Homo sapiens: one gene and its partners. The protein of the gene in region 3 interacts with the protein of the main gene of each other region in a biochemical or structural test. Each region holds a gene or a part of one and is shown on either strand. Other genes may lie near its edges.

Region 1 (3,954 bases), on a different chromosome or scaffold from region 3:
GGACAAACCCGGGAAAATGGCCAGTGGGGTTGAGCAGGACACAGGTCCTGCTGTGTCTAGCTGGTTCCCCAGAGAGATGATAAGGGGTGCGCTCCAGCTTCTCAGGCTCACTCAGGCGTGAGGACGTGGAGCTCAGGGCTCTGCAGGAAGGAGCGACCCAGGTGAGGTGTGGTCAAGATAGAGCAGAGCTGGGCAGCGGGCAGTGGAGCCTCGTGGGCAGCCTGGGGGTGGGGAGGCACAGTGCACTGGGAAGTGGAGAAAGTGTGAGTCCATCAGGCTGGCTGAGAATTGATCACGAACCTATTGTCTGTAAAACTTTTGTTATTTCCTGAGACGTGGTTCACAGCAACCCAGGTGCGAACAGCCTTGTGATTCTAGGGTTCTTTTCTATTTTTTAAGCACTTGCATCTACAAATAAATTTCTGAGTGACTTGTCGTCAGCTGCTTTCCTTGATATGTCTAAAGACAGGGCAGTGACCCGCATCGTCACCCAGAGATTCTGTCTCTGTGCCACATGAAGATTAGGTGCCCGCTTTTGATTGAGGAGCTCCTCTGTTGCTCTCAAAGTATCTTGTAATAATAGCTGAGATGCATGGAGAACCACCTCTCCTTCAGGCGCTGCTCCTCGGCTTCCGTGGACGGGCATGGCTATTTCTCGGAACCCTCTGAGGTTAGAGCTGTCATGGTCTTTCTTCTGAAAGAGGAAACCGAGGCTTGCTGGGGCTCAGTGGCCCTTCTGTGGCTGCACAGCTTTCGGGGTGGGGCCAGGACTGACTGACTCCACACAAAAGTGCTCCCGGCCCATGTCTTTAACTCACACGGCCTCTTGCAAACGTTCCCAAATCTTCCCAGTCGGCTTGCAGAGACTCCTTGCTCCCAGGAGATAACCAGGTAAAGGAGTATGAAAGTTTGGGTACAAACTCATTGCTGCAAATTGAAAACCATGCAAAGGCTGTCTTCCTCTGGGGAGTTCAATGCCTCTCTTTTTCTTATCACTTTACCATTGGTTGGACTTTGATTCCAGGGATCCTACGATTACTCAATACCCTACAGGATATACATGGTTAACCATTTGCATTTGGGCAAATAGGCGTTACTTTTCAATAGGAAGTGGCAATCCAGAACTTGCTTTTGGGCAATTCTAGTAGCTCACCGCTTTTTTCTTAATGACTGCTAGAAGCTGCATCTTATTGACAGATGGTCATCACATTGGTGAGCTGGAGTCATCAGATTGTGGGGCCCGGAGTGAGGCTGAAGGGAGTGGATCAGAGCACTGCCTGAGGTGAGCATGCCAAGGCCCCTGAGACTTTTCTTTCAAAAATGTAACTTCTTTGATCCCCTAGTCTGACAGGAATGGGACTGTTTTACTCATTAATCTTCCAGAATGCTGGCATATTGACCATGTTTATGCTTAACGACACAGACTTCCTTTCCTGAAAGCATTGACTTTATGGTTTTAGGAAGCCCACTTTTCCTCTAAGTGTATAGTAAGGGATTTCATACTCGCTCCCTGCACTGGAGCTTCGGTGATGGTCTGGGTACTTGCTCCTCATACAGGAGATATCCTCAGGGCATCAGTCTGGAGAGGAATGTGATTCTTTATTTGATCAAATACACTGAAAGATTTTGGAAAACAAAAAAATTAAGCTAAGAAATATTTTGGAGGCAGTAAGTCATTTATGCAATGAAGGCTGATGAGTGGGCATCCCGGACAGCCTAAGATTGAGCAGGAAGGAGCTTGTGAGGGGGAGTTAAGAGAAATTGACAAGGTGGAAATTTCAACAAGTCTCAGTTGCAAAGCTCTCATGAGGGCTGCCAATGCCACTGTGATTATGAAGGCAGTATCTTATGACCAGAAAATAATACACAATGATATTAAAGGGAGCCAGGCTAGGTGCAGTGGCTCATACCTGTAATCTCAGCACTTTGGGAGACCAAGCTGGGTGTATCAGCTGAGGTCAGGAGTTCGAGACCAGCCTGGCCAACATGGTAAAATCCCGTCTCTACTAAAAATACAAAAATTAGCCAGGCATTGTGGCATGTGCCTGTAATCCCAGCTACTTGGGAGGCTGAGGCAGGAGAATCACTGGAACTTGGGAGGCGGAGGTTGCAGTGAGCCGAGATCACGCTACTGCACTCCAGCCGGAGATCAGCTCCAAAGTCCACTTAGCAGCAGGACATAGATATTGTAGAGATCAGCTTTATAAAGAAAAACAAAAATGCAAGGCCATAACTAAAGCTATTCTTTAAATGGTTAAAGATGTAATTTCTGCAAATAAAACAGAAAACATAAAAGCAAACTTCCAAAGAAATTAAAGGAACTGAAAAAAAAAAAAAACCAACCCACAGAAGCTTAATAAACAAATCACCGGGGGAAAACAAAAAAAAAATCAAACCTCCTGGTCTCCTCCTTAGCCACTCTCATTCAAAAGCAGAAGGAAGCCAGCCTAGAGTTTCAGCTCCACTGATGCTTATCTAAAAAGGTATAAAATATGGTGGGCCCATGATTCAAATAAACTTAGAGAACATAAATGTATTGAACACCTACCATTACAGTATGCAAAACTCTGATATCAATAAGATGTTTTAAAATAAATATATTATTTAAGATCTTGTGGGAATTCTATGGCATTTCACTAAGACCTGCTGGTGGCAAGGTGAATTAGAACGGCGAGTAAGAGACAGTAATGGGAGTCTCACCAGTACTCACAGTCCTAGATGAGCTACACTCGCTATCTGTAAAATGGGTATGATGTCTACCTTAAAGGGTTTTGTGAGGTTAAAAGAGATAAACAGCTGTAAACCAGTGATTCTAATGCCTAGCAGGTAACTAGAACTTAATTTACAGCATATGCGCGCACACACACACACACACATATGCGTGCATATATACATACACACACGTCCATATGTACACACACACAGTTATACACATACTGCACACACATGCATGCATACACACATGTATGTATACATGCAGGCACCAATATACACCCATGCACACACATGCAAATACACACATACACATGTATACACACATGTGCACACCTATATACACACATGCATACACATGCATATACACATACATGATATAAACAGGTGTATATATGCAGGCATATGCACACTGCACACATGCACACATGCCTAGACACATACATACACACACACCGACATATGCACACACACACACATACTCTTATTTAGTTCTTGCTCCTTGTTTTGCAGGGCCACTACTATTTATGAAAGTAAGCACAAATTTAAAACTGTCTGACAATTGTAACACATTGTTAAGCTAGTTATTAAATGTTTTTAAATTACAAGTCCACACAGTTTTTATTACCAGTAATATTTTCATAACTATTACTAATGTTTTCCCCATATTGAATTTTCTTGGACAGAGTCTGTCCTTGGCCAAAGGGATGATCAATGGCAGTCGGTCTGTTGCTTGGTCCCCCCAACCCCTGCTCTTCTTGGGGAGCCCCCCACCCACAGCTCTCACCGGCCTTCCCTCTTTGCTACCACCACAGAGCCAGCCAGTATTGGTCTCCCTGAGAGTGTGTGCTGTGGCTACCCACCTCTTCTGGGGCCATTTGCCTGTGATTAGAGGACTCCCAATGCCCTCAAGTCCAAAAACATGGTTTTCTCTAAGGTAGAGGCACCGTTGAAGGCCGGGGGGAGATGAGTGTGGCTGTGTTTGGAGAACTGAACACGGCCTTAAATCCTATAGTGAGGGCAGCCCCTCCCTCTTTCTTCTGGTTCTGCTTTTTAGCAGAATGTATAATTAGGTGTTCTTTTCATTTCTAAATGAATTAGCCAATTAATTATTACTTTCTGAGATACTCTATTGCATATTGTACCTAATAAAAGTTGTACTAGGAAGCCACATTACTTTATTGCAATAAAAATTGCAAAAAAAATTGAACATTTTAAATGCTATGTAAGAAATATTATTCT
Region 2 (3,500 bases), on a different chromosome or scaffold from region 3:
ATCCAGCACAAGACCAGACATAGGTCCATTCATATCACCTTCCCTTTCTATTCTCAAACCAACTGCTACACATAAGCAGAATCGGTTTTTAGTTTTCTCCTAAATGTGAAATCACAAAAGGACTTGACATCAAAGAATTCCAAATCGGTCTTTATCAATGGCTATTCCAAAGCCGTCTGCAATCAATATTGCAATAACTAAGGCTCCACGGAATCCTATGGTATCAATCCCAGCGATGAGGCCAATAAAAGAAGCCCTGCAAAGCTATCAGAAGCATTTGTGACCAATATTCCATCATAACACCATTAACACTGCTTGACAGGGCAATTTCTCAGTTGCTAATTTGTTAGAAAACTACCACGAATTCACGTTCATACCTGTAACCTTAAAACTTGCTCCTATAAACATTGTTGTCTCACCTGAGAAGCTAGGTGACTTGTCAGAGTAGTTCAACGGGGTGTTAGTATTATGAAAAGAGAAAGGCCTCAGGGTTTTCATTTCCCTGAATTCACAATTATGCTTCTACCTAAGGCAGAGCCTTTACTTTAAAATTAGAGCTGTCACGCTAATTCAAATGGTAATCAGGTATCTAGAACCATCAACTCCATAGCAAAGAATACGTCTCTATACTCCTAAAATAATTACAAATGTCCATGATATTATCATTCCTACTTTCCTTCTCTAGCTTTCATAGGGTCAAGCTTGGATGCATTTTGCTTCACCCAATTCAACAGCTTTCCCAAGTACCCTCAGGTGGTAATGCCCTCACTCAGGCCACCAAGAGAATAGCGTCTGAAGCTGAGCAGTTTACCTACCACCAAGGTAGAATGCTTCACCCACTGCCCTTTCAGAATAAAACGATGGCCACAGACACCATCACTAAGTTTTGAAAAAGACTAAACTTGTTGAGCTAACAGCTCTAAAGCAGACTGTAGTATGGTGGAAAACGGCCCCCAAAGACATCGGCTCCTAATCTCTGGAGCCTGTGAATGCTACCTTATAAGGAAAATGGTCTTTGAAGATGTTATAAAAAATTTTGAGATAAAAGAGATTATCCTAGATTATCTGGGTAAGCCTTAAATGCCACTCAAATGACTTTATAAGAGGCAGAGGGAGATTTGACACCTCACAAAGTACAGAAGGTGAAGCAGACTGGAGTGATGTGGCCACAGGTGAGGGAATGCTGCAGCCCACCAGAGGCTGGAAGAAGCAAAGAGCAGCTTCCCTCCACAGCCCTGCCAACGCCTTGACTTTGGCCCAGTGAAACTGATGTTGAACTTCTGGCCTCGAAAACCGTGAGAGAATAAATTTCCGGTTTTTTTTTTTTTTTTTTTTTTTTGACACAGAGTCTCACATGTTGCCTAGGCTGGAGGCAGTGGTGCGATCTCAGCTCACTGTAACCTCCACCTCCCAGATTCCAGCAATTTCTCCTGCCTCAGCCTCCTGAGTAGCTGGGATTATAGGCACCTGCTGCCACGCCAGGCTAATTTTTGTATTTTTAGTAGAGATGGGGTTTCGCCATGTTGGCCAGGATGGTCTCGAACTCTTGACCTCAAGTGATCCGCCCACCTTGGCCTCCCAAAGTGCTGGGATTACAGGTGTGAGCCACCGTGCCCAGCCCATTTCTGTTGTTTTAAGCCGCTAAGTTTATGGAATTTGTTACAGTGACCACATAACAGAGATTATGAAAAACTAAACCAAAGTAGAAACGCTTTACAGTTACCACACTCCAAAAATACATAAAATTCCAACATGTCACAGGAAAAAAGATTTTAAACAACTTTTAAAACAGTGTATTTAAAACAAGTTTTAAAAGACTGGGCAACAAAGTGAGACCCTCATCTCTACCAAAAAAAAAAACAAAAAAAACAAGTAGCCAGTTGTGCTGCTGCGCAACTTCAGTCCCTGCTACTCAGGAGGCTGAGGCTGAAGGATCATGGGAGTCCAGGAGGTAGAGGCTGCAGTGAGCTATGATCATGCCACTGCACTCCAGCCTGGGTGACAGAGTGAGACCTCACCTTTAAAAACATAAATAAATAAAAAGTTTAAATCATACACTATCCTTCAACTGAAGGTATAAAATGCAGCTACTGAGTTATATAGATTTTGAAAATAGAGCCAGCCTCTTAATTACACCTCTGATTACTCACACACTTGCTAGGCCAGATAACCATGATCTTCCTGAATAGCATTGTAATTGAACATTTTTCTATTTATATTAAAACTTACAATAAAAACTGAAACTATTAGAATTTCTCATTGAGCAAAACATTTTAAGGAGCAAACTATCCACTACTGGTAAGTTTATGATCAGACATTCGCAATTCTTTTTTTTTTTTTTTCAGACGGAGTCTCACTCTGTCCACCAGGCTGGAGTGCAGTGGCATGATCTCAGCTCACTGCAAGCTCCACCTCCCGGGTTCAAGCCATTCTCCTGCCTCAGCCTCCTGAGTACCTGGGACTACAGACACCCGCCACCACAATTAGCTAACTTTTTGTATTTTTAGTACAGACAGGGTTTCACCGTGTTAGGCAGGATGGTCTCAATCTCCTGACCTCGAGATCCACCCACCTCGGCCTCCCAAAGTGCTGGGATTACAGGCGTGAGCCACCGCGCCCGGCCAGACGTTCGCAATTCTTAGACTTACTTATTTGGCTACTGATCTACAGCCAGACATGTAAGAAACTCCTAATTGCCTTATCACAGAAAATACTGCTTCATTCTTAAATATCACATTCAATACGTATTTACGACGAGGGATGTCATGTAAGAAAGACTTCATGTCTTCATCTCAGTAGTTATTTTAAAACAAAGGTTTTCACTGATGGGGTTGTTGAGGGAAAGTCCTCAAAAAAACTTCCAGAAGAAAACAAAAAATGCCTGCTTCCCCCATCTCTCCACATTTGATCCATCTGCTTACCTAGCAGTGCCTAGAAATAAAATCAAGGATGCTTTCTTTGTTACTGTTTTCTCTAGGACTCAAACAGCCATTCACGGTTCTAGAAACAGATGCCACCTAGTGTCAAATGACTGTAAGTACAGCCTTTACAGCCCACAGTTTCTGTCAGAAGTTACAAGAAGTACATCAAAGATTTTTACTGGGCAAGGACAAGTGTGAGGAAAAGCTTCCAAAAGGTGGTTCTTGGGCTGGACGTTAGAGGCCACTTTGAGTTTGCCAGCTGGTGGGCTTTGCAGAGGCAGCCCGCACAGGGATTAAGGATGTGGCTCTGCAGTCAAAGCACCTGTCCCACCCTAGCTTCATCCTTACCCCAGCAGTGTGAGCAGACGAGTTATTTAACTTCACCGATGCCCCACCAGTACAATGAAAAGAAGGCCTCCCTAGGTTTGGCACAAGATATTTTAAATGAGCACAAACTGCTAACAAATTAAGGTCTCCCCTTCCAAGTAACTAAGGCAAAAGTAAAGCAGGCCAGAAACATTCTTCACAAAACTTTAATCAAGTAGAAATTTCCCTTCTATTCCCCACCATAACTCACAC
Region 3 (3,500 bases):
ATTTTGTAAAAAAAAATCTTTTTTTTGGTAATCTCGTAAGAAAAAAGTTTGAAAAAAGTTCTTTTGTTATTTTTCACTTATTTGCTTTTGTCAGTGAATGATTCAGTTTCTTAAATTTCCTGCTGATTTTAATTTGTTGCCTTTTGGTTAGGTGTGTTGGCTTACGTCTGTAATCCCAGCATTTTGGGAGGCTGAGGTGGGGGGATCACCTGAGGTCAGGAGTTCGAGACCAGCCTGGCCAACATGGCAAAACCACCTCTCTACTAAAAATACAAAAATTAGCCAGGTGTGGTCACACATGCCTGTAGTCCCAGCTACTCAGGAGGCTGAGGCAGGAGAATTGCTTGAACCTGGGAGGTGAAGGTTGCAGTGAGCTGAGATTGTGCCACCACATTCCAGCCTGGGCAACAGAGTGAGACTCCATCTCAAAAAAAAAAAAATTGGTTGCTTTTAGTTTTGTTTTGGATCTGTATTATAAAACAGTTTGTTATGATTGTATCTTATATCTCTTCTATTTCTGACAGCACTCAATTCTGAGTGAGGCCTGAGAGCTTGACATCTAAACATTCAGAGTTTTAGTGCATAGACTTTGTGATGATTATTTGGATACTCAGGGACCTTTATTGCTTACTATTTTGTTATCTGCTATATGTATAATTGTCATATTTAACAAAATCTGGCACCTTTAGATAAATGAGATGTTACATAATTTAAAAAGGTAATACTTTTCTAATTCCTTATTTCCACTTTCTCTTTATTTTTAGAGTATGCCAAGATGGAAGGAAGCCTCATACAGTGAGATTAATAATCCGTCGGTATTCCTCTGAGAAGCACTATGGTCGTGAGAGTCGTCAGTGCCCTATTCCTTCACATGTAATTCAGAAATTAGGGACAGGTATGGACTAGTTTTCCAACAGTTTCATTAGCAGGTTGAACTCTTAAATAAGCCAACTTTGAATGAGAAATATGCTCCAAAAATGGAGGGTCTTCACAGGGAATTAGCAAGCAATTAAATGCTTTTATTCTATCAGGAATTTTCACTGGAAAACTTTGTTGTTTGTTTATTTATTTATTTATTTTTTGAGACAGGGTCTTGCTCTGCACCAAGGCTGAAGTGCAGTGGTGCTGTGATAGCTCACTGCAGCCTTTGTCTCCCAGGCTCAAACAATTCTTCTGCCCCAGCCTCCCGAGTAGCTGGGACAGTAGGTGCATGCTACCAGACCTGGCTAACTTTTTTGATATTTAGGATAGACAGGGTCTCAAACTCCTGAGCTCAAGCAATCCTTCTGCCTCAGCCTCCGAAAGTGCTGGGATTATGGGCATGAGCTACTGCACCTGGCCTTGTTTTTAAATAGATAATTAAGTAAAGAGTCATTTAAGAATGTTTTCCAAGTTCAAAGAGAACAAAACTGTGATAACTGTATAGCATGAGATAACTTCTTTATGGGCATTTAGATTGTTTCCATTTTGAAGAACATTTAAATGCAAGTCATTGGATGGGCATATGCATATGTTTTCATTTATCTTGGGTAGATTTCAAAGAGTGGAATTGCTGGATCATATGGTAACATGAACTGTTTAAGAAGCTGCCAACTTTTTTCCAAAGTTTGTGTATTAATTTACATTTTCATCAACAATATTTGAAGGTTCCAGTTTTTCATATTTTCGCCAATATTTGTATTATCAGTCTCTTTGATTATAGTTGTTCTAGCGGTATATAGTAGTGTGGTTTTTCTTTTATGGATAGTGTTTTTGGTGTTATATGTAAAAATTCTTTGCCTAACTCAAAGGTCACAGATATTTTTTTCTGTTTTCTGTTAGAAGTTTTATAGTTTTTAAGCTTTATGTTTAGGTCCATTTTGAGTTAATTTTTTTATGTGTGGTATACGGTAAGGGTCTTCATTCTTTGCTTTGCATGTGGGTATCCAGTTGTTCCTGCATCATTTGTTGAAGACTATTCTCCACCCACTGAATTACCATGACATCTTTGTCAAAAATTAATTGACCATAAATATAAGAGTTTATTTCCTGACTTTCTTGTTTCATTGGTCTATATGTTTATCCTTAACACTGATTCCACCCTGTGGTGGTCTCTGCTGCTCTGTTTATTTTTCTGTAGTCTTTTTTTTTTTCCGTTTTTTCTTACAAAGTGGATAATTTGTATTGAGCTGCCTGTAAGTTCTCTGATTCATCTGTCATCTCATAACCGCTGTTGCCCCTGTAGTGATTTGTTGGTTTTGGTTACTGTACTTTTTAACTCTAGAATTTCTGTTTGTCTTTTGTTTATATGTTTGGTTTTGTTTCTTTATCAAGATTCTCCTTTTTTTGTAGTCATTATATTTTACTTTAATTCTTTAAACATGGTTGTCTTTAATTCTTTGGACATATCTATAATAATGAATTTGAAGTCTTTGCTAAGTTCACCTCAAAGTCAATTTATGTTAACTGCTTTTCCTCCCAAATATGTATCACACTTTCCTGTTTCTTTGCATGTTTTGAACTATTTTATTGAAAACTGAACCTCATAGATAATGTATTGTAGCAACTCTGGATTTACAATTTTTTCTTGTAGGGTTTTTTCTTTTTTGTTTCCTGTACTTCTTTTTAGGTAACTTGTCTGAACGTAATCTGCAGAATTTACCTCCCCTGTGCTGTGTAGCCACTGATTTCTCTGCTCAAGTGTTTTTTTTTTTTTTTTCCATTCAAATTTTTATTTTAATACTGGCTTCTGGGAAGTTGCCCATGTCTGTATAGTTTCATGGTTAGCCAGTGATTGGCAAAGGTTTTGCTCAAACACTAGAGTCTGGAAGCCGTCTACCTCTGCCAGTGGATAAGTGTATGGGTTGGAGAGGGCTTAAAAAATTTAGGCCATTTTCCCATACTGCCCAAAGTAATTTATAGGTTCAATGCCATCCCCATCAAGCTACCACTAACTTTCTTCACAGAATTGGAAAAAAATACTTTAAATTGCATATGGAACCAAAAATGAGCCCCTATAGCCAAGACAATCCTAAATAAAAAGAACAAAGCTGGAGGCATCATGCTACCTGACTTCAAACTATACTACAAGGCTACAGTAACCAAAACAGCATGGTACTGGCAGAAAAACAGAGATACAGAACAATGGAACAGAACAGAGGCCTCAGAAATAACACCACACATCTACAACCATCTGATCTTTGACAGACCTGACAGAAACAAGCAATGGGGAAAGGATTCCCTATATAATAAATGGTGCTAGGAAAACTGGCTAGCCATATGTAGAAAGTTGAAACTGGATCCCTTCCTTACACCTTATACAAAAGTTAACTCAAGATGGATTAAAGACTTAAATGTTAGAACTGAAATCATAAAAACCCTAGAAGAAAACCTAGGCAATAGCATTTAGTACATAAGCATGGGCAAAGACCTCATGACTAAAACACCAAAAGCAATGGCAACAAAAGCCAAAATTGACAGATGGGACCTAATTAAACTAAAGAGCTTCTGCACAGCAAAAG
Region 4 (2,736 bases), on a different chromosome or scaffold from region 3:
GCTGCAGTGAGCCAAAATCGCGCCAGTGCACTCTAGCCTGGGTGACAGAGCAAGACCCTGTCTCCAATACAAACAGAAAAAGGAAGGGAGGTTGGGCAAAGGTGGACTGAGGGTCCACACTGACTGCACCCTCACTCCCACATTGTGCTGGCCCTGGGGCCACAGGTGAATGGACGTGGTCTTTGCCCTTAAGTCAGCACCCATGTAGGGTCAGTCCTCTGTGCTTCCTTATCCAGGGGCTGTGATGATGAAGGAAGGAGAAGGCCAGGGCTATGCTCTGTGATGGCTGTCATCCTGCCTTCCAAAGCTACATGTAATAGACACACTGCTTTGTCCCTCCCCTGCCCCTAGGACGAGCGGGGTTCCGCAGCTGACTCCGAGGAGTCCCCAGCTATTGAGGCAATCCATCTGTTGAGGAAGACCTTCCCCAACCTCCTGGTGGCCTGTGATGTCTGCCTGTGTCCCTACACCTCCCATGGTCACTGCGGTGAGTTCCCTCCCTCCCACCAGCCCTGCTGCCACCCACACTCCTACTGCCCACTTCTCAACAGGGTGGGGACAGGCCAGGGCCCAAGGTGCTCCCCAAAACCCAGTCATCTGTCCTGAAGGGCTCCTGAGTGAAAACGGAGCATTCCGGGCTGAGGAGAGCCGCCAGCGGCTGGCTGAGGTGGCATTGGCGTATGCCAAGGCAGGTGAGTGAACCACCAGCAGGGATGGGCACCTCTGGGTCAGGAGGTGGCAGAGTGGCTAGGAGGGCCCCAGAGTTCTGAAGGCCACCCTCTGCCCCCCAGGATGTCAGGTGGTAGCCCCGTCGGACATGATGGATGGACGCGTGGAAGCCATCAAAGAGGCCCTGATGGCACATGGACTTGGCAACAGGGTAAGGGCAGGGAATGCAGCACAGGGCTGGCAGGAGATAGTCTGCACCAGCCCTGCCCCCGTGTCTGCTAAGAATCACAGAACTGCCGGGCGTGTTGGCTCACACCTGTAGTCCCAGCACTTTGGGAGGCTGAGGCAGGTAGATCACTTGAGGTCAGGGGTTCAAGACCAGCCTGGCCAACATGGTGAAACCCCATCTCTACTAAAAACACAAAAATTAGCTGGGCGTGGTGGCAGGCGCCTGTAATCCCAGCTACTGGGGAGGCTGAGGCAGGAGAATCGCTTGAACCCACGAGGCAGTGAGCTGAGATCATGCCACTGCACTTCAGCCTGGATGACAGAGCTAGACTCCATCTCAAAAAAAAAAAGAATCACAGAACTGAAGACAGTGCTGGATGAGGCTTTGGGGAACCATTTAAACCTCTGGGCCTCTGCAGGGAAATCAAGCCCAGCACTCCAACAGGACCAGAACACAGGCAGTCTCCTTCCCAGCCTAGGTTCTTTCTCTCCCTGCCACATCACCCTGGGATACCTGGCAAGGGCCGAATAAGCCAAGACCTCCATTGTCTCCCCATAGGTATCGGTGATGAGCTACAGTGCCAAATTTGCTTCCTGTTTCTATGGCCCTTTCCGGTGAGCAGGGGTGGGCAGGGGTCTGCTGTGAATCCCTGGCCCTTTGGCCCAAAGCTGGAGCCCACCCTGATGACTCTGCTTTGCAGGGATGCAGCTAAGTCAAGCCCAGCTTTTGGGGACCGCCGCTGCTACCAGCTGCCCCCTGGAGCACGAGGCCTGGCTCTCCGAGCTGTGGTGAGTGACTAGGACTTGAGCCCCACCCTCAGCCCCCTCCTAGGCACCACCCACATTATACCCTCATCCCTTAGGACCGGGATGTACGGGAAGGAGCTGACATGCTCATGGTGAAGCCGGGAATGCCCTACCTGGACATCGTGCGGGAGGTAAAGGACAAGGTGAGCACAGGTACGAGGCAAAGGGGGCTCAGGGGGCTGGGACAGAGTTTTCCACAGACTCTGGAATCTCAGAGTTGGAAGCAGTTTGCCCTTAAGCATGCATCCTCTCCTCCCCTTCCCTGCCCAGGAACCATCGTGGCCTTCTATGTCGGGGCTTGCACGAGCCTCAAACAGCCCTGCTTTAACAGTTCAAGAGTGGGCCAGGCTGCCAGCCGCAGTAACCCAGGACACGGGGCTCAAGATGGTCACAGATTGAGCAGGGGGGAAGGGACGCTTCCAGAGCCACATCCACCCTCCATTTCAGCCTGTCTCCCTGTCTGCTTCCCTGCAGCACCCTGACCTCCCTCTCGCCGTGTACCACGTCTCTGGAGAGTTTGCCATGCTGTGGCATGGAGCCCAGGCCGGGGCATTTGATCTCAAGGCTGCCGTACTGGAGGCCATGACTGCCTTCCGCAGAGCAGGTAGGCAGGCAAGGGTGGGGTGTTTTGACCTGCGCCACAGGGACTGATAAGCACTCTGCCTAGATTGGGGAACGACGTCCTGAGAGCTTGGGATCTTATTCCGGGAATTACTAGTGATCTAAACAGACACACACTGAGGAAGAGATATGGAACTGCAGCATAGAACACGGCCCGGTGAAGCAAGCAGAGCCCTTCATTTTTGGTTGTGAGAACGTGGGCAAGCCACTTCTCTGAACCTCAGTGTCCTCACCCATAACTGGATAACTGGGGATAAGATACCTGGTGCGTGGTTGTCCTGAGGATTAAATGAAGTAATATCACTCCATAAAGGGGACTCATTTTGTTAGAATTGCACACCAGCATGGGAAGGAACTTGCCTCTTACCTATTTCCTTCACTGTGCATTTTATTCTTTGGTAAACTGAGGCC
Region 5 (4,250 bases), on a different chromosome or scaffold from region 3:
TGGGAATACAGTCGTGAGCCACCGTGCCCTTCCCAAGCTCTATCTAGACAGTCATTCCTCTTGGGGGATGCCAGCTGGGGAGAGCCTGGAGGAGGGCAAGCAGGGAGATGGAGGTTTCTCTGTGCCCTGCAGGGCAGGCCACTGGAGTCCAGAGGATGAGCAGGGAGGTTCTTGCAGGGATGACAGGAACCCTGGGGAAGTTTATCTTGGATTTTGGCCAGCAGCTCCAATCCCAGGGCTCAGGTGGGGCGGCAAGGACACACAGTGTCAGCGCCTGATGAAATCCCTGAGGTCACAGAATATGGTGGCTCCATCTTCCTTCCAGGGCTGTGTACTGCTTTTGGAGACATACAAAGTGTTTTCCAATATTCCCAAGGGAGCTTGTGGAAAATGAAGATTCCAGGCCTGTAATCCAAGCATTTTGGGAGGCAGAGGCAGGAGAATCACTTGAGCCCAGGAGTTCAAGACCAGTTTGGGCAACATAGCAAGACCCCATCTCTAACAAAAAAAAATTAGCCAGGGCCAGGCACGGTGGCTCACGCCTGTAATCCCAGCACTATGGGAGGCCAAGAAAGGTGGATCACCTGAGGTCAGGAGTTGGAGACCAGCCTGGCCAAAACGGTGAAACCCTGTCTCTACTAATAATACAAAAATTAGCTGGATGTGGTGGTGCGTGCCTGTGGCCCCAGCTACCCGGAAGGCTGAGGTGGAAGGACTGCTTGAGCCTGGGACTTCAAAGCTGCAGTGAGCTATGACTGCACCACTGCAGTCCAGCCACGGCAATTGAGTGATACCCTGTCTCAAAAACAAAACGAAAACTAAACAAAACACAGATTTCAGGGTCCAGTTCCCTATAGGATTCTGGTTCATTCCATCTGTGTTGGGGCTCAGGAATTTGTGGATCCAGGGCCATGAGTTAGGAAACTGAGAAATCTTGGAAATGATGAGACAGGCTTGGGCAAATGACCTTAGGTTTCACCTTTCTGAGACCCAGTTTCCACCTCTGTAAAATGTGGATAGTAATCTCGCCTTCTGGCCTTATGCGGAGGGTCCCACGAGAGGGAGCCTATAAAGTCTTCAAGAAAGCGGTGCAGCAGTTATGATCACTGACATTCTTCCCCAGCAAATGAGCCCCCGGAGCTGGCATGCAGGATTCGAACCAGCTCACCTAGCGCGGGATTCGAACTCGCGAAACTACTCGCGCCTTCCTGACGTCACGAAGTCACCCTGGAAAGCCGCTCTTCGCCCCGCCCCCGGCCCCGCCCGCGCCCGGAGCCCCGCCCCACTCTCCTGGGCGCAGCCTACCCCGCTGCCTGCCCCGCGCCCCGCCCCCGCTCCGGCCTCCCGCAGCCGGGGCTCGCGATTGGCCTTGCCGGGACGCCAGGGCCCGCCCCCCGAGTGTCGGCCCCGCCCCCGCAGAGGGGAGCGAGCGCTCGCGGGCCGGGGCGGAGGGTTCGGCTGCGCGGCGGGGCTGAGGCGGCCGCGGGGCCCGAGCGCAGGTAAGGGCGCCCGCGAACCGGGCCAGGGGAAGTGAGGGCGCGGCCGGCGTCCCGGAGAGGGGACTGGGACAGCTCGGATTCGGCTGCGGACCGAGTTGGGGGTCGGAGTCGGCTGAGGAGGGGGGCTGGGTCTGGGGACCCGGGCTGCAACTGGAGGCTGGGGTTGGAATTGGGGACGGGGCTGCGCTTAGGGGGTCGAAGTTAGCTGGGGAGGGGCTGGGGTTGGGGATTGGGACTGCACTTGGGGCTCAGGGCTAGCTGGGGAGGGGGCGGGAGTTGCAGGTCGAGGTTAGCTGGGGACGGGGCAGGGGGTGCAGATCGAGGTTAGCTGGGGAAGGATTGGGTCTGGGCATTGGGACTCCACTTAGAAATCAGGGCCAGCTGGGGAGGAGGCTGGAGTTGCAGGTCCAGGTTAGCTGGGGAGGGGGCTGGAGGTGGGATTGGAGGTCTGAGTTAGCTGAGGAGGGGGCTGGGGGTGAGACTGGAGGTCTGAGTTATCTGGGGAGGGGACTGGAGTTGCAGGTCGAGGTTAGCTGGGGAGGGAGCTTGGAGCGGGATTGGAGGTCTGAGTTGGCTGGGGAGGGGTCTGGAATTGCAGGTCCAGGTTAGCTAGGAAGGGGCTGGTGGTGGAATTGGAGGTCTTGAGTTTGCTGGGGAGGGGGCTAGAGTCGCAGGTCGAGGTTAGCTGCCGAGGGGGCTTGGAGTGGGATTGGAGGTCCAAGCTAGCTGGGGAGGGGGCTGGAATTGTAGGTCGAGGTTAGCTGGGGAGGGGGCTGGAAGTGGAATTGGAAATCTGAGTTAGCTGGGGAGGACGCTGGGGATGGTGTTGGGGGTTGAGGTTAATTGGAGCGGGGAACAGGGGTTGAGTCAAGGGTGCAGCTTCTTTGAAGAGGGAGCTGGGAGTGGGGTTGAGGTTTGCAGGGAGCTGGAGAGGGGGCTGGGGATGGAGTTTGAAGTGGGGTTCATTGGAGAGGGGGCTGCAGAGGGAATTAGATGTTGAGGTTGTCTGGGGAGAGGACTGAGGAATGGGGTTGGTGAAGATGGGGGGGTGTGATTGACGGCCCAGGGGTTAGGGTTAGCTGAAAAGGGGCAGAAGGACAAAGCTGGGGTGAGCCAGGGAGTGGCTGGAGCATACAGGTGGGGGTCAGGCTTGTTCCAGAAAGGGTCTGGGGGCTATCAGGGGAAATGGGGAGCTTGTGAGTGTGTGGGGTGGAAGGGGGTTCAGGGAGAAGGAAGTTGGGGTGAGTTAGTGAGAAGGGAGGTGGGGGTAAGGTCCCAGGCTGGAGACACCTGGGGGCAGGTGTTTTGCTAGACATTGACTAATCAGGAGGAAAACGGGGTGTGGGGAGGTGTCTCAGGTAGGATCCAGTTAAAAGGAATTTGGAGAGGACTCACCCCTCTACTTTTGGGGGAGATGTTAATTGTTTGCTCTAGAACTGGGCACGGGGCAGAACCCCCTGGGGAACAGTGAGTTGAAGGAGACGGGAGTTCGGAATACTTTTTGAGGTTTATTTCTAGGATATAGGGTGCCAAGGAGAACGCTTCAGGAAGGAGAAAGGCTCCTGTCGGTGACTGAATTTTTCAGGAACTAAAGTGGGAGTTTTTGGGACGGTGCTATTGAGCGACGTGGGTGGCACTTTATTTTTCCTGGGGAGCGGGGGTTGCTAGGGGTTGGGAGGTGGGCGGTGGAAGACAGGCTTGATGAACAGAGGCAGCGGATCCCCAGCTAAGCGTCTTCACACGGTTGCTAGGTGTCAGCGAGGCAAATGCCAAGTTCACAAACTTGTTCCCGTCGTGGGATGCTGCGATCTTGCCTTGATGGAGTGTCGGGGGCCTCTGGGAGGTGCGCCTGTGTGTGTTCCGACCCAGCCTCTCGCTGCGGATTTGGCTGTATCATCTTTTGGAGGTGTTGTTTACTCCCCTGCAAAGCGGGAATAATAAAAACAGTAGCATGTGCCTCTCAGGGTCGAATTACGGGATGTATGCATGGACTATTTCCTAGCATATAGTGAGGGTACCTGAAGCATGGAGAATAATGGACTCAATCCAGTTTTTTTCTTTGGTGGGTTTGGAGATGGAGGAGTGGGATGACTGGGTTGTCACAGAGGAGAGGAAAGGAAGTGACTGGAACTTGACTCTAGTCCTGCAACCTTAGGAGCACACATCAGGGTCACCCCCAGAAGCTTTAAAAAATAACCTGCATGGCTGGTTGTGGTGGCTCATGCCTGTAATCCCCGCGCTTTGGGAGGCCGAGGCGGGTGGATCACCTGAGGTCAGGAGTTTGAGACCAGCCTGGCCAATATAGCGAAAACCTGTCTCTACTAAAAATATCAAAAATTAGCTGGGCATAGTGGCGTTTGCCTGTAATCCCAGCTACTTGGGAGGCTGAAGCAGGAGAATCGCTTGAACCCAGGAGGTGGAGGTTGCAGTGAGCCAAGATCACGCCATTGCACTCCAGCCTGGGCAACAGAGAGAGACTCTGCCTCAAAAAAATAAAGGAAAAAAAAAAAAAGGACTGCAACAACAACAAAAATATGTCTTATTATTATTGTTATTATTATTATTATGTTGAGACAGAGTCTCAAATATGGAGCCTGTTTCCATATTATTAAAAGTGAGTAAAAAACTGAAAAGAAAGAAGACTTTGCCCACACCTGGTGGCAGGAGAGTCTCAAAGCTCGTTAAGTAACAGATGCACCTGTTCAAGAGAAGGCTGCCTGGGTCATTCTGATTAGGGGCACCCCGTAAGGA
Region 6 (3,500 bases), on a different chromosome or scaffold from region 3:
TGAATGTGAAATCCTGTGTTTCCCAAGTGTCCATGTCACCGTCATGAGAGGATCAAGGAGAGGACCTTGTTTTCTTTCCCCACTCACACCCTGCCTCAGCACAGGCCCAGTGAGAGAGACACACTCAGGAGCTCTCACATAACAAATGAAGGAATGGAATGAAGAAATGGATGATCCAAAACCTCTTTAGAGACTGGATCTTGGAATCAGAATCCTAGGAGGTTCTAGCCACACCTGTCCCTTGTCCTTCAGAGGCTGACACCCATGTTTCATCCCCCCACTACCTCTTGACCCTAAAGCCACCCCACCTCATGCAACTCTGAAGTTCTTTGGCCACCGGAGGGTTCTCAGGGCTCTTTGGTCCTGGACTGTGGAGCTGGGGGCACCTGGTCCCTGGGGTTTTTGAAGTCAGTGTCTCCCTCACTGCTCACTGCCATGGTGTCTCTGCCTCTCTCTGCTTCTCTGTGTCCCTCATCTTCCTCCCACTTCATTCTGACTGGCAAGCCCTGTCCTGCACAGCTTCTTCCTCCAACCCTAGGCCTTCCCCAGACACTCCCTCTAACTAGGCTGGCTGTTCTGTTCCCTTCCCGCTAACACTGTGGCCTGGCCCACCTCCCAGGAAATAGGAAAGGTGCAGAAATCACCTGGAGTTGCCACTCCTGCCAGGCTTCCTCTCGAGCCAATGTCCCCAGGTCACTAAGAGAAACCTTCCACTGTATTCCCATCCAGGGCTCTTTCCCTTTGTGAGGCTGACCTGTGGACAAGACCATGGGACAGGGATAGGCAGTTCCCCCATCCACCCTTGTAATTGCCAGACAAGTTCCTCTGGCCTCCTGCACACAAAAAAATATAAAATAAAATAAAATTTATTGAAATGGTGGTTTGCAGTAAAGAAAGATTTTAAGAACTCCAAGTCTGCCAAACAGGAGGGTGGAGGTTTATTATTACTCAAATCAGCCTCCCCAGTGGATCAGGTGTTAGAGATTTTCAAGGATAGTTTCAGGGGCACAGGACTAAAAAATGAGTACTGCTGATTGGTGATGGAATCATGCGGGCGGAGGGAAATGATCTGTTAGTGCTTGAATCTGCCTCTAGGTAGGGGCCACATGACTGGCTGAGCCATTAGGCATAGGTATGGATGAGGTCAGCCGGTTGTCAGAAGGCAAAAGAATGAGAAACATTTCAAAAGACCAATCTCACGTTCTACAATAGTGATGTTATCTATAGGAGCAATTATAGGAGCAATTAAGCCCATAGGCTCATTTCACCCATTTCACTAGTGACTCCATCCTCAACCTGCTATGGAGCTCACATTCTCCGGTCACTTTCTAGAGACTTCTGGCTTCCTGTCAGGCATAAAACAAGCTTGAAATTTGTCACTCGGTTCTAACACTAAGTAAAAAGCTGAACAAACTCAAAAGTCAACAACTCATTAAAATCCTTCAGAGATGGCTGGGCACAGTGGCTCACGCCTATAATCCCAGCACTTTGGGAGGCTGAGGCGGGCACAAGGTCAGGAGATAGAGACCATCCTGGCTAACATGGTGAAACCCCGTCTCTACTAAAAATACAAAAAATTAGCTGGGCATGGTGGTGGTCACCTGTAGTCCCAGCTACTTGGGAGGCCGAGGCAGGAGAATGGCATGAACCCAGGAGGTGGAGCTTGCAGTGAGCTGAGATCATGCCACTGCAGCTGGGGTGACAGAGCGAGACTCTGTCTCAGAAAAAAAAATGCTGTTAGAGAAATGAAGAATGCTTTTGATGCTTACTGATAGACCGCACAGAGCTGAGGAAAGAATCCCTAGCTTGAGAATGTGTCAATAGAAACTTCCAAAACTGAAACAGGAAAGCTCAAAAAGAGTGGGGAAAAAAAGCGGAACAACATATTCAACTTCATATTTAATATTTTGTTTTGACAATAGCAATTTTTAAATTTTGTAGTTGTGGGACAACTACAAAGGCTGTCACATACACTTAACGGGAATACTTGTGGTTTGGGGACCAGATGGAGGTGGCCAGGTAGGTCCTATCTCATGGTTTTACTGCCTGTGCCACATACAACTATTTCCTCATGATGATGCCGTTTTCATAAGTTGGAGTTCTTCGTGTGGGGAGACACAAGAGCCATTGGCATCTCACTTAGACTCTTCCTAATTCACACAAACTTAAATTTTAGTGGTGTTTCCTGACCTTAAGAGAAAATGAAGAAGACATTTCACATACCTGTTTTGGGGTCCTCCCCATGTTTTGTAACTCTGCACAGAAATTAGAAGCAGGTTCTTTCTATATTTACTAACATAACACACATCACTTCTTTTAATTTGGCATCCTTCCTCCTTTTATGTAATTGACACACTAACCAGTTCGGTCCTTTTAACAGGACTCTCTCTACTTAAGGAGTTGCTAATTTCAAATCACCTTTGGCATCTTTCTTTGAGCATAATGTGATCCTGCTGGAATTCATGGCACACCTAAACCTTATTTTGGTCTCAAGAGAAATATGACTACCAGCAATTGATCTTAGATGTTTGGACCATCAGTAAAAATTTCCACTTATGAAAACATTTTAAGGTTTCCTCCAAATTTTTTTTGTTACTAGAGTCAGAATATAACATGAGGTCTAAACTCCTGACAACTTTTTATGGGAAAATTACAGTATTACAAATTGAGCATCGGAAATCCAGAAATCCACAATCTGAAATGCTCAAAACTCAACACTTCTGACCACTGATGTGATGCTAAAAAGAAGTGCTCACTCGCGCATTGTGGATTTTAAATTTTTCAGATTTGGGATGCTAAACCAGTACATATACTGCAAATATTCCAAAATAAAAAAAATTAGAAATCCAAAACACTTTGTTTTAAGCTTTCTGCATAAGGAGCACTGTATCTGCATGAAGTATAGGCACGAGGCTGCACAGGAGATCTCTAGAACCTCCTCATCCTGCATAACAGAAACCGCACACCCACGGAACAACGCCCTATACCCGTGATTTCAGTTGCTGCAAACTACTATTCTAATCTCTGATTCCCTCTGGAATCCACTGATATGAGGTACATAGAGTAGTCAAACTCAGAATCAGAGAGTAGAATGTCTAATAAGAGAAAGTATCTGCAAGACTTCTTCCCAAATATTGGTCTAATATCCACCAAACACATAAGGTCCCTGAGGGCCAGACTTCTGTCATCTGTTCATGTTTGCCCTTTCCACCAGTCAGTTCTGCATTTGCAAACATCAACATGTATTTCTAGAAAGATCCATATGGTCCTCAACTGCCCTCTACAGGGGGAAGGGAGCATCATGGACCCAGAACAGGGATCATGGTCTTGGGCCAAACCTATCAGCTCTTGCCTGTCCCTTTCACTCTTTGTAGGTCATTCCTTGGACTCTGCTCTATCTTTAGAGTCATTGGCTCAACTCAGTCACTATGAGACACCTGGAAAACTGCCCCACCTTGTGGCTCCACTGCCTGATGACTGAACTGACCTCCAGGCCTGAC
Region 7 (4,170 bases), on a different chromosome or scaffold from region 3:
ACTCAGGAACTTCCCACTGGCAACCAGTGTTACCCGGGTCTCACCGATCCCGGGTGAACAGTGGTAATAGGGAGGAAGATGAAGGATAGAACCATTGCACAGCAGCCTTTTGCAATCATCTAGTCCTTTAGGAACAGTTCTGCTGTGCTGTTTAGTCCTCAGGCCACACTGTGAGAACAAGTTACAGAGCACTGTGGTGAGTGCTGAATGAGTCAGGGAGTAGAGATAGGAAGAGAGAGAGAGAAAGGGAGAGGGAGAGAGAGACCTGTAGGTACATAGAAAAGGCAGGAAGCAACATATGTCCTTGACTCATTTGATACTGCACTTTGTTCCACTTCCCAAGGATTCAGTCACTGCAATTTACCTTTAGCATTCCAGGCAGATAGAATCCTGCTCTACATATGAATCTGGGCACAAAGCCATGCAGGTGTGAGTAAGCCCATGAAGGAAGTGGCACTCAAAGACTCTAGGAGTTCAGGCCAGGTGCAGTGGCTCATGCCTATAAGCCCAGCACTTTGGGAGGCCGAGGTGAGTGTATCACCTGAGGGTGAAACCCTGTCTCTATAAAAACACAAAAATTAGCAGAGCATGATGACGGGTGCCTGTAATACCAGCTACTTGGGAGGCTGAGGCAGAAGAATCACTTGAACCCTGGGAGGTGGAGGTTGCAGTGATCTCAGGTCATGCCATTACACTCCAGACTGAGTGACAGAGCGAGACTGTCTCAAAAAAAAAAAAAAAAAAAGACTCCAGGAGTTCTAATATGCCCCATTAGGTGGGCACCAGAATGGCCCCTTGTAACTTTTTCCTACCTTCTCCTCTCCTAATTCTTTTTCTGTGGAGGAAACAATAATTGTCTCTGAATCATCCCTATTCGGAGCATTGAGGATATATTAGAAGGTCTGGGTAAACAAGCAGAAATATTGCAAAAGTGCTAAAACATCAAACTTCAGGGTCGAATTTGTGGTTTGCTTCTGCTTTTTCTATCCACTCTAAAGGTGTTCCTGATAGAGAAGCTTCCTCAGTGTTCCCTGTGTTGGTGTGTAAGACAGAAAGAAGATGGGGTAAAAGAGTGCACGCATCCTCCACTACAAACCAGAGGCTGATAGCATTAGGGAGAAGCTAGGGTTTGGCCTCACACAAGCAGTTTGCACTGTTGTCCAATCCCAGGTGGGGTGGTTGCCTCTTCATTTCCTTTGATAGCAACCGCCTGTTGCGTGATGTAGTGTGGGTGTCCTCAGAGGTAGCTACCTAAGTTTGCATACTTCCTGACTGACAGAACACTCCTGCCAGTGCCTCCAGGCCAGGGTGGTGGTGTTGGTGGGAGGAGTAAGTAACCAAGTTTCACTTCCTTGCCTTGGAGACTCAGAGCCATAGCAGGCTGCTGTCTCACAGAGCGAGAAGGTGTCAGGAGCAGCCCAGTTGTGTCTCTCTCTCTACCTCTGTGAAGGGCGCGAATGGGCAGAGCAGAACTTCTAGAAGGGAAGATGAGCACCCAGGATCCCTCAGATCTGTGGAGCAGATCCGATGGAGAGGCTGAGCTGCTCCAGGACTTGGGGTAAGGCAGCAGATCTCCTTTCAAAGTACCTAGTGGGTGGACATTGACTCCGCACTCCCACCTGCATGCTTTGATTAATGACTATCTTCAGTGCCTTGTTGCCCTCTGCCACCTCAACCATTTATTTTTTTCCACTTTATTCATTTGTATCTGTTAAGTATCTTCTTGTCTGGGGCTAATTCCATTGGAAAAGCAGGCATTATTTTTCTAGATGTGAAAACAAGTTGGTTGAGAAAATAGGGAAAAAAATCAAATGTTGGACATTCTTTGAGAAGAGGGACAGAATTGGGATATAGAGGTGATGTTGCCTGGCTTCCTTGATGTTGCTCTGGTTTATGAATAAATGCGCTGTTCAAGAGTTTCTAGCACTGACCCAGGGACAGTAAAAGGACTGTGTTTCTGGTAAGATAAACAGAAAGCTTACCCTACTGTAAGGGAGAGGGACTTTTTCAAAAGACAGAGAATGAGGAAGTTCCTGCAACAGTCTCGCTTGTATATTTCTTTCTCCTGATACTGCATTTGTGAGATTTGATATCGTATGTATGTCCAGAGAGCCAACTTTGAGCCTTTCAGTACCAACAATCCAGGAAGAGGATAAAATTTCTGCTTCAAACAGGTAAGCATAGGTAGGTGGAGTCATTGGAGCTCTGTCTTTAAGAAGGGACCCAGATGACAACTCATCCGGGTATTTAATAAGAAACAAGTATTACACAAGAGAGGAATTGGGGATTTCCCAGAGAAACTGCCTAATGCACTGGGAATATCCCAATGAAGGTGGCTTTGACACCTGTGCATGAGGAGAGGCAAAACCTTTACCTTCTGCCTGGACAAATAGCTCTAACTCTTCATAGCAATCCAATGACATAGGAGCTGTTGTCATCTTCATCTTACAAAGGATGAAAACAAGTACCAAACAGGTTTGAATAACTTGCTTGCTAGTCACACATCAATTACATAGCAAAGCTGGGCATCCAACCTACCACAGGCTATGTCCGAAACCAAAGAAAAACCAAAATAGAGTTGAAATCTCTCTGTGTTAAGGCTGCAGAGATTGTATCTTTTTATGTTGTATTACTGTAAAAGTTTATTAATAATTCCTGTCTTTAGATTATAAAACTGAGGTCTCGGAATTGAACTCTACTTTCATTTGGCAAATCAGATAAAACACCTGGAATTTTCATTAAAGAAAACTCCCCTTATTAGGAAGCCAGAGCTCTAGAATCTCTCTATCCCTCTAGATTGAATCCCCAAACAGAAGAGGTAAAAGGCCCTTCTGTGAGCATCCAGCACAGGTGTCACCAAGTCCAAAAGCTAAAGCTGAACTGTGGCCCTCAGTGTCTTATTGAACTATTAAGTTACAATGCTTTACATGTTCTGTTAACTGTATTCCCAGCCCACTGTAATAGAAAACCCCAAAGGAGGAGATAGAGGAATATATTCAATTCTGGTCCTTTAGTTAAACAAACAATCCTAGAACCCAGAGTCTATGGTTGAGTACTGTGGGAACACACTTAGATGACAAAGATGAATTAGATGCTGTCTCTGTGCCCCACCATGATGTCAACAGCAAGAAGCAACTACAGGTGAAACCCACGGGTGGAATAGGACTGTGTCTTTCCTCCATGTGCAAAGAATAGACATTGAATACAAAACTGAGTCACACCACTTCCCTGCAAAAAAAAAAGGGTACATTCATGGCCAGATTTCCCTATTTCAGAAGGCGTGAACAATTAATAAACATGAGGATGATTTCTATAGCAATGGGCAACCTGCAGTTATCTGGGAAAACTGCTCTACAGTCCTGGTTCTTGACCTTGGCTGTGCTCTGGAACATCTTGACACCCAAACCACAGACTTGACAAATGATTTCAGTATCTCTGGGGATGGGTGTTTTCTTGTCAAACTCTCCAAGTAATTCCAAAGTGAGACCCTAGGTTGATGATCACTGCATAGAATATGTATCTACCAAATGCATTAGGTAAATGTGGTCTTGTTTTTCATTTTAAGTCTGTTGGGTGTGTACTTGAATCTTAAAATTACTAATAAATGTTGATATTTTGTTTGTTGGTTTAGGGGCATTTCGATTAGCAACTTTATTGAGGTTATTTTACATATCATAAAATATACCCGTTTCAAGTGTACAATTCAATACTTTTGACTAACTTTACAGAGTGATACAACCATCACCATAAATCAGTTTTAGGACATTTCTGTTCTCCCAAAAAGAACCCTCAGATGTATGGCTTATTTAAGCATACTCAACAGTGTGCTGGAAAAACAGCTGGGAAGAGTTGGGGTGTGGAGAAAGCCCTGATTTCAAGAATTTGCCTAATTCCCTGGTATAAATACTCCCACTATAGACAATTTCAAGCTGCCAACAATTTAACATCATCGAATTGAATATTTAATAATCAACTTGTGCCAGTACTTGCTCCTGCAGCACCTCACTGATACATTTTTTATAGATAACAATTTGAGAACTCTTGACAATGACTTGTTGCCTCTGCCAGAATACTGAACATAACTCGAACATTATAATGACTTTTTCTTTGAACCTTTAACCACTGGCGAGATAGAATCTCTACCAAACCTTCTGATTAATTTAGTTTCCA

The links.
Region 1: the proteins of POLI (region 3) and CCR6 form a complex in vitro, tested with the Homo sapiens proteins (one large-scale study listed by BioGRID).
Region 2: the proteins of POLI (region 3) and KMT5B form a complex in vitro, tested with the Homo sapiens proteins (one large-scale study listed by BioGRID).
Region 4: the proteins of POLI (region 3) and ALAD form a complex in vitro, tested with the Homo sapiens proteins (one large-scale study listed by BioGRID).
Region 5: the proteins of POLI (region 3) and GNG7 form a complex in vitro, tested with the Homo sapiens proteins (one large-scale study listed by BioGRID).
Region 6: the proteins of POLI (region 3) and PSG6 form a complex in vitro, tested with the Homo sapiens proteins (one large-scale study listed by BioGRID).
Region 7: the proteins of POLI (region 3) and DAPP1 form a complex in vitro, tested with the Homo sapiens proteins (one large-scale study listed by BioGRID).

Annotation. Positions count from the first base shown.
Region 1 is NC_000006.12:167,121,942-167,125,895, forward strand, and holds the start of CCR6 (C-C chemokine receptor type 6), read left to right. Parts: upstream 1-1,154; 5' UTR 1,155-1,282; intron 1,283-3,954. UniProt on the Homo sapiens protein: Receptor for the C-C type chemokine CCL20. Binds to CCL20 and subsequently transduces a signal by increasing the intracellular calcium ion levels.
Region 2 is NC_000011.10:68,203,297-68,206,796, forward strand, and holds part of KMT5B (histone-lysine N-methyltransferase KMT5B), read right to left. Parts: intron 1-3,500. UniProt on the Homo sapiens protein: Histone methyltransferase that specifically methylates monomethylated 'Lys-20' (H4K20me1) and dimethylated 'Lys-20' (H4K20me2) of histone H4 to produce respectively dimethylated 'Lys-20' (H4K20me2) and trimethylated 'Lys-20' (H4K20me3) and thus regulates transcription and maintenance of genome integrity.
Region 3 is NC_000018.10:54,286,517-54,290,016, forward strand, and holds part of POLI (DNA polymerase iota isoform a (long)), read left to right. Parts: intron 1-764; coding exon 765-895; intron 896-3,500. UniProt on the Homo sapiens protein: Error-prone DNA polymerase specifically involved in DNA repair. Plays an important role in translesion synthesis, where the normal high-fidelity DNA polymerases cannot proceed and DNA synthesis stalls. Favors Hoogsteen base-pairing in the active site.
Region 4 is NC_000009.12:113,388,549-113,391,284, reverse strand, and holds part of ALAD (delta-aminolevulinic acid dehydratase), read left to right. Parts: intron 1-351; coding exon 352-487; intron 488-608; coding exon 609-692; intron 693-791; coding exon 792-880; intron 881-1,456; coding exon 1,457-1,512; intron 1,513-1,598; coding exon 1,599-1,686; intron 1,687-1,760; coding exon 1,761-1,847; intron 1,848-2,178; coding exon 2,179-2,308; intron 2,309-2,736.
Region 5 is NC_000019.10:2,699,895-2,704,144, reverse strand, and holds the start of GNG7 (guanine nucleotide-binding protein G(I)/G(S)/G(O) subunit gamma-7), read left to right. Parts: upstream 1-1,450; 5' UTR 1,451-1,499; intron 1,500-4,250. UniProt on the Homo sapiens protein: Guanine nucleotide-binding proteins (G proteins) are involved as a modulator or transducer in various transmembrane signaling systems.
Region 6 is NC_000019.10:42,911,395-42,914,894, reverse strand, and holds part of PSG6 (pregnancy-specific beta-1-glycoprotein 6 isoform b precursor), read left to right. Parts: intron 1-3,500.
Region 7 is NC_000004.12:99,815,457-99,819,626, forward strand, and holds the start of DAPP1 (dual adapter for phosphotyrosine and 3-phosphotyrosine and 3-phosphoinositide), read left to right. Parts: upstream 1-1,370; 5' UTR 1,371-1,457; coding exon 1,458-1,558; intron 1,559-4,170. UniProt on the Homo sapiens protein: May act as a B-cell-associated adapter that regulates B-cell antigen receptor (BCR)-signaling downstream of PI3K.